Homo sapiens: one gene and its partner. The protein of the gene in region 2 purifies or fractionates together with the protein of the main gene of each other region. This does not show direct contact. Each region holds a gene or a part of one and is shown on either strand. Other genes may lie near its edges.

Evidence for each region.
Region 1: the proteins of KCNK3 (region 2) and COPB1 purify together in Homo sapiens (affinity purification with western blotting, with the first as the bait; 2 studies listed by BioGRID). This does not show direct contact.

Annotation. Positions count from the first base shown.
Region 1 is NC_000011.10:14,478,997-14,482,820, forward strand, and holds part of COPB1 (coatomer subunit beta), read right to left. Parts: intron 2,102-3,824; coding exon 1,994-2,101; intron 1,910-1,993; coding exon 1,763-1,909; intron 719-1,762; coding exon 573-718; intron 1-572. UniProt on the Homo sapiens protein: The coatomer is a cytosolic protein complex that binds to dilysine motifs and reversibly associates with Golgi non-clathrin-coated vesicles, which further mediate biosynthetic protein transport from the ER, via the Golgi up to the trans Golgi network.
Region 2 is NC_000002.12:26,730,513-26,734,035, reverse strand, and holds the end of KCNK3 (potassium channel subfamily K member 3), read right to left. Parts: 3' UTR 616-3,523; downstream 1-615. UniProt on the Homo sapiens protein: K(+) channel that conducts voltage-dependent outward rectifying currents upon membrane depolarization. Voltage sensing is coupled to K(+) electrochemical gradient in an 'ion flux gating' mode where outward but not inward ion flow opens the gate.

The DNA of each region.
Region 1 (3,824 bases), on a different chromosome or scaffold from region 2:
TGATTTTCTTCTCACAAAGGAAGCAAATCCTGCTCTGCTCACTTCCATAAATATTAATATATTTTCATATCATAAAAACAATTTTGTACTTGTCCCTTCCTTCCTGAGACATATTTCAAGTCTGTTAGAGACTATCCATCAGATGCTTTAAATGAAGCAAAATTTAGATGCAACAGTCCTTTCTCATTAGCAAAGGCTCTCTGAAGGGAAAGACAGATTTAGGTTGCATTTTCAATCTTTCTCTTCATTAAATGTGAAAGGAAGATATAAATAATAGTAATAGCCAAAAAGTGATGCCATTTAAAAATATGCTCTTTAGTTACTTTAAGATTCACAATGTTTTAGAGAAAATCAGAATAGAGACCCTGAGCTAAATCACTCCTAAAAAAATTATTTTGGGCCATTTATTATAGACTAAATGAGAGTGGAGTTAGCGAGATGCTTGTTGTACAAACTTGTCTTATTTTGGCTTGATTGTCCTCTCCATTCTATTTTCTATCAACTGACCCTTTAAAGATAAAAACTGATAAAATGCTTACTTGACCTTACATTTAAATGTATTTTAAACCTACTTGACAGATTTAATAGCATGAAAGACTTCAAGCATCTTCTCAACAATAAGCATTCTCAGGTTATCAAAGCGCTGAATGGCTTCACGAACAAACTCCAAGACATCAGCAGCTGCTGCTTCGTTGTTGTCACTGAGAAATTCCATTAACTAAAAGAAAAAAAAAAAAAAGAAAATGGAACTAACAATTTTCGAAAAGAAAATTATCTAGGACAAGAAATAAATTAAAAGAATGTAATTCTTTTTTTGTTTTCTAAGAGACAGGGTCTTGCTTTGCTGCCCAGGCTAGAGAATAGTGGCACAATCATAGCTCACTGCAGCCTTGAACTCTTGGGCTCAAGTGATCCTCTGGCAGCCTCAGCCTCCCCAGGAGCTAGGACTTCAGGCATGACACTATGCCTAGCTAATATTAATTTTTTTGTAGAGACAGGGTCTCCCTATATTGCCCTGGCTGGTCTTGAATCCCTGGCCTCAAGTAATCCTCTTGCCTAGCCCTCCCAAAGTGCTCGAATTACAGACATGAAGTGCCATGCCTGACCCTTGTAATTCTTAATAATTTTCAAATACACAACAAAATGTAAATTGAGAGACAAGTACTATTATGTAAACAAAGTCACAATGGCTTTTCCATTTTATGTGCAGCAAAATTTATTTTAAAATTCACTATAAAAGATAAGCTAGAGATCCAAAACTCCAAATAAATAAATGAATTCGATCCTCCTAAATTGTAACTAAAATCATTTTAGAGAGAACTCAAGAGCTCAAAGGCAAAAATCAAATTATAATAACATACCTCACTTATCTGACAGTGACAGCAAAATATTCTACATATGTGAATTTTTCCTATAACTGATTCCTTTAAGAGCTAAAGCTATTTAAAATAAATACCTATTTGCCTTACTGAATAATATATATACACAGCATAATTTTACTTTAGGTAACTGTATCATCAATTAAAATAATATGCAAAGCTTTTTTTTGGTCACTGTTTTTGTTTTTTTGATGAATATATAAGTGAAAGAAGTCAGTCCTCACCCTTCTGAGTTTAAAGGTAGAGGTAGATATAAAGATCACTTCTCACCATGAGATTTAATGGTTCTAGGCAGCTGAGATTTCTGGAGTTTGTCAAATAACTATATTTTTTAAAAAATTCTTTTAGATAATTTCAAAATTAAAGTCATCAGAATTACATACCACAGGAATAACATTTGCAGCCATATCTGGAAATCGGACAGAACAGGAATGCAATGTTCGCACTAGGAGTTGTCTGTATTTGTCAGTATCTTCATGCTCAGACACATTATTTGTTTTTATCACTTCCTTCTTCAGGACAATAACCAGCTTATAGAATGAAGTAAAAATAAGTGAGAGTTACATCATATTTGGGCCTGATAGCTACAAAGTGCTGTCAGAGTTTCCTTTTACCTCTTCAACATTTCTAGAAGAGACAAGATCCAGTGCTAACTGCAGAGTTTTCTTTCGTACTTCTAAGTCTGGTGTGCTCAATACTCTTAGGATATCCATAACCAGATCCTAAAAAAGAAGAAAAAATCAAGAATTAACACCAATCTTTCTGGTCACAGGAAAAAAATCTTCACTGCAGAATGGTGGGGTTTATCTATCATCACTTTAATTCTTTAATCAATAACAAAACCACTAGTGGTGGAAGAACTAGATAGTTTGGGTCTCCTGATACACTGCAATATGAAATAATAGCACATGACACATTCAAACTGATAATGTTTACTTTGACTCTGTCAAGCTAAAGCTAAAGCTCCAACTTACAGTTTATAGAAAGTAACAGAAGTCAAAGAACAAGCTAAACAACGTAAGAAAGTAGCCATACACATCCAGAAAGAGGGGCATTTTATAGTATTACTGGTCTGGTCTCTTCAACAAATCAGTGTCATAAAAAAAAGATACTGTCCAAAATTAAGAGACTGAAAGGGCATAACCACCAAATACGATACATGGTCACAAAATGGGCAAACTAAACAAAAAGGGCTTTTGGGATAACTGGGAAAATCTACATATAGACTTGGTATTAGATAACATTCATAAATTATTAACAATTTCGTTAAATGTGATATTATTTGACTCCATAGGAAAATGTAACATTTAAAAGATGCACACTTAAAAACAATTCGAAACTGATAAAAAAGTTCTAAGAGTGAACTCCTGTATATCCTTCACCTACATTCACCAGTTAATATCTTCCCACATTTGCTCTTTTCTTTTTTTTGAGATGGAGTCTTGCTCTGTCACCCAGGCTGGAGTGCAGTGGCAAGATCTTGGCTCACTGCAACCTCTGCCTCCTGGGTTCAAGCAATTCTCCTGTCTCAGCCTCCTGAGTAGCTGGGACTACAGTTGCACACCACCATGTCCAGCTAATTTTTGTATTTTAATGGAGACAGGGAGGGTTTCACCATATTTGTCAGGGTGGTCTCGAACTCCTGACCTCAGGTGATCCACCTGCCTCAGCCTCCCAAAGTGCTGCGATTTTAGGCATGAGCCACCACACCTGGCCCACATTTGCTCTTTACTGCTGATAATTTTAGTGTATCTCTCTCAAGGGTAAGGATAATTTCTTATATAACCACATTATAATTATCAGAGAATTTAACACTGATCAATACTATTAACTAATATACACACCATATTCATATTTCTCAATCTGTCCCAATAATGTCCTTCATAGAAATTTGTTGTTGCTGTTGTTCTGATCCAAGATCAGCACTGCATTTACCTGCCATGGGGTTTTATTTTTATAACCATTATTATTCTCATGGATTAAACAAATATGGTGATAATTTTCTAGAATCAGATCACCTTTTATTCTCAATTGGTATAATAATTTTCCACGAAATGTAAATTATATTCAAATTAAAATGAGTATGTCACTGTCGCTAAGAATAGTCAATACAGTACAAACCGAAAAGATAAAAAAATATAATACTGATTCACTTTAGAAAAACATTTTTTTTTTTTGAGACAGAGTCTCACTCTGTTGCCCAGGCTGGAGTGCAGTGGCACGATCTCAGCTCACTGCAACCTCTGCCTCCTGGGTTCAAGTGATTCTCCTGCCTCAGCCTCCCAAGTAGTTGGGATTACAGGCGCACTTCACCACACCCAGCTAATTTTTGTTATTTTTAGTATAGACAGGGTTTTACCATGTTGGCCAGGCTGGTCTCAAACTCCTGACCTCAGATGATGTGCCCGCCTCTGCCTCCCAAAGTGCTGGGATTACAGGCGTGAG
Region 2 (3,523 bases):
TGCCCACCTCTACCTCCCAAAGTGCTGGGATTGTAGGGGTGAGCCATCGCACCCGGCCAGAATAGGATTTCTTAGCTCCAATGGAATCTGTCATCTTTGAAGGATGACATCTTTAGATTACAGCCTCCTCTCTCACCGAGGTTCTGAATAAGAAATGACCACATCATAAATAGCTCTGAACTTCTGCCACACCTTTGCTGAAGATGTGGATCATCATGGGACAGTACACAGCAGGTGGGTAAGAGCATATGCCTCGCAGCCATCGGCCTGTGTTCAAATCCCCGCTTTGCCATCAATTCACTGCCTGATATTGAGCAAGCGGGCTGCTTTGAGCCTTGGTCGAATCTGGCACGCAATTGAGAATAACATATGTATTTTATATTGTTGTAGTCTTCACTTATAGAAGGACTTGCAAGCTAAACTTCTTTTATAATTTAGTGTGGGGTGAGGAGGAAGGATCAGCCTTCTCTCTTCATCAGTGAGATTTCGATGGATCAGCATTTCCCAAAGCATGTGCTGTGACATACAGGGCTCGGAGAGATGTCGTGCAAACAGAGGCTCTGGTATTTGGAATGAGTTTGGGCAGTGCTGGATTAAGCAGGGGTAAACAGCATCTTTGCTGCAAGACTTTTCATAACCTTTATTAAGCTAAGATGCCTTGCGAAGCTCCATGAGTCGGTGATATTGACAGCATTTTCCCAAATTCATTTGACCAACGAACCATTTTTTCCACGAGGCATACCATGGGACACGTTTTGAAAAGAATTGTCGTTACATCCCTCTTTCTCTCTTGGCCCCCGGAAACTTCTATTTCCATCTGATGCTCACCCCGAGTAACCAAATCAGCGGGGATCTGGGTATATTTATACCCCACCTCCACTCTGCTGTGCTGGTTTTCTATTTTTGTTTTGCTGTACATATATCTTTTAGTGCAGGATGCCTCAGATGCTGTGTGGAAATGAGGGGGGTGGGGATGGCATCATCTGGAGAGAAGGAGCCCACGCTAGAACCTCAGGCAATTCTGAGATCTTAGGAGATGTGAGCAGGGACATGGGTGCAGTTCACCACTGCTCTGCCCAGCTGTCACAATGCTGATCACCCCTAGGGAGATGGGGATAAATGCAGCCCCTTAGGGGACTTCTCCCAGGTCTGTTTGTAAAGTCTGTCCCAGGCGATAAAGAAAGGAGGGCAAGTGTCATCACATTTATGTCCTGCAAGCACTGCTTAAGAAAATAAGAGTCACCTTGAACTGGTCATTGCCAACCTCAAAAACAAGCTAATTTCTGCTATTGTTGCATTTAGCTGTTTTAAGAAAGACAGAGGCAGGTGGGACAGGGCAGTAAGCCTCAGATTTTGATGTGGTGGCCTTAGGAGTGGGTGAGTCAATGGCAACTAAGCCCCCTGAGGGCTGCAGGCCAACAAGGAGCTGCCAGGAGTGCTGTCACAGGAGGGCTGGCTGTGTCCTGCCTCTGGGGGCAGGGAGTGCAGGTGCCATCATTTCTTCCTTTGAACTCTGAACCCCCCATCAAAGCTTCCCTCTCTGTATCTTTCAGTTGACCTATGCGGGTAACGAGGGGCGGTGTGGGCACTGGGAGAAAGTGTCCCTACTCCCACTCTCTTTATTTCTCCAGTATATTTCAATCTGCAGGTATTAAACCATTAGCAGGTAGAGACATCAATTTAGTGGATCGTGACCAGCATTTTATAACATGCAATAGAACAGAACGTATTAGAATCATTGGCTGTAGCAGGGTTGCTAAGAATTATTTTGTGAAAGGTAGGCAGATAGATAGGCATGGAGCTAGATAGGTACAGAGCTGTGTGCTATTACTGTGGATTGTACTCTATGAAGTCCGGGGGTCGCTGTAGCTGACCTGGGGAGCTGGCACCAGATGGATAAGGTGGGTCTGCTCTCACGGTCTGTCGTAGGTTCTGAGGCCCAGTCCCAAGCCTGAGCTGTCCCTCTAGACCCAGAGAAAAATCTACCCCAAAGAAAGGTGCTTGTGATGCACTCTCCTTCAAAGACATATGTTTTAGTCAATCAGGCCACTCAGCCAGGGGGCCCCTACTGCAGGAGAAGGAATCCATTCTCCTGGCTGACTGGGAGGTACCACTGTCAGCTGGGGTGTGTCCAGGCGGACTGTGCAGTCTGTGTGAGGATGGGGAGCACTGGAATAGCAATCCCCAGTCCTAGTTCCTAGCCTAGGTCTGCCACTCACTGCTGTGTGACTCAGGCAGGCGATTTGCTCTCTGTGGGCCTCAGTTACTCATGTACGGGGGGGACAATAGGACCAGGTGATTTCTAAGGTGATCCTTTCTTAGTCTGTTCCAAGGGGACTTAAGAAAATCTGGATCTTCTGGGAAATCCCAAAAGGGAAGCCAGTGTCGCCCACAGGCCAGCGAGCCCATGGCGAGTCAGCTAGGTATGTTATTTTATTTTATTATTATTGTTTTTTTTTAGACAGGGTCTCACTCTGTCGCTCAGGCTGGAGTGCAGTGGCACGATCTCAGCTCACTGCAACCTCCGCCTCCCGGGTTCAAGCGATTCTCGTGCGTCAGCCTCCTGAGTAGCCGAGTAGCTGGGACTACAGACATGCGCCACCACGCTCAGCTAATTTTTGTATTTTTAGTAGAGACGGGGTTTTACCATGTTGGCCAGGCTGGTCTTGAACTTCTGACCTCAGGTGATCTGCCCGCCTAGTGCTGTGACTATAGGTGTGAGCCACGGCACCCAGCAGCTAGATATGTTTGTAGACCCCGGCAGGGGAGGGGGTGGGAGATGGCCCCTCCCTGGCAGCAGCAAGGGCATACGATGACAGAGGCAGCTGGAGCCTGAGCCTGGTCTCCGTGGATAGCATTTATTGGGCGCCATTCTCAGTGTGAAGACAGATAGGCAGGAAGAGCTGAGGGAGGCTGTGGCAGCCACGACCTTTGGAGTCCGGGGGCTGCCCGGGGTGGGGGTGTGGTCGTGAGGGCATGGTCACCCACACATATTGCATATTCTGTGGCAGTGTGCCCAGGCATAAGGCATTGGGGAAGCAGAGAGGCTGCCTGCAGTGAAAGGGAGTGAGGGGGAAGCAACACTGGCCTTCCAGGTCCCTAGGAAAGACCCAGCAGAGACTGAACAGTCTGCCACGCTGTGCCCCACGGCCATTCTGCACCCTTCCCCACCTTCTCTCCGCAGCTTTGGTTGTGGCTCCCTCGGGACTGACAGGACAGGACCCTTCGAGGGCAGGGTCACACACAGGACAGAGGCAGCCAGCACTGCCCCCCCACCCCCAACATAAACACAGAGGGCACCTTCAGGTCCCACGTGCAGCCAGTTCCTCCACACTGAGACGGGACTCACAAGCAGGGTAGACTTCTTCCCCCCAGGGGTCCCCAGAGACTAGAGGACACAGCTGGGGTGGGGCCTGAGGCTGGCCACCCTACGGGTGCTGCCCTCCAATTTCCCTGAATGCCAGGGCTGGCCTTGGTCGGCAGTGTTAAGGAGCTGGCAGGGGAACAGCATGGGAAGGCAGTG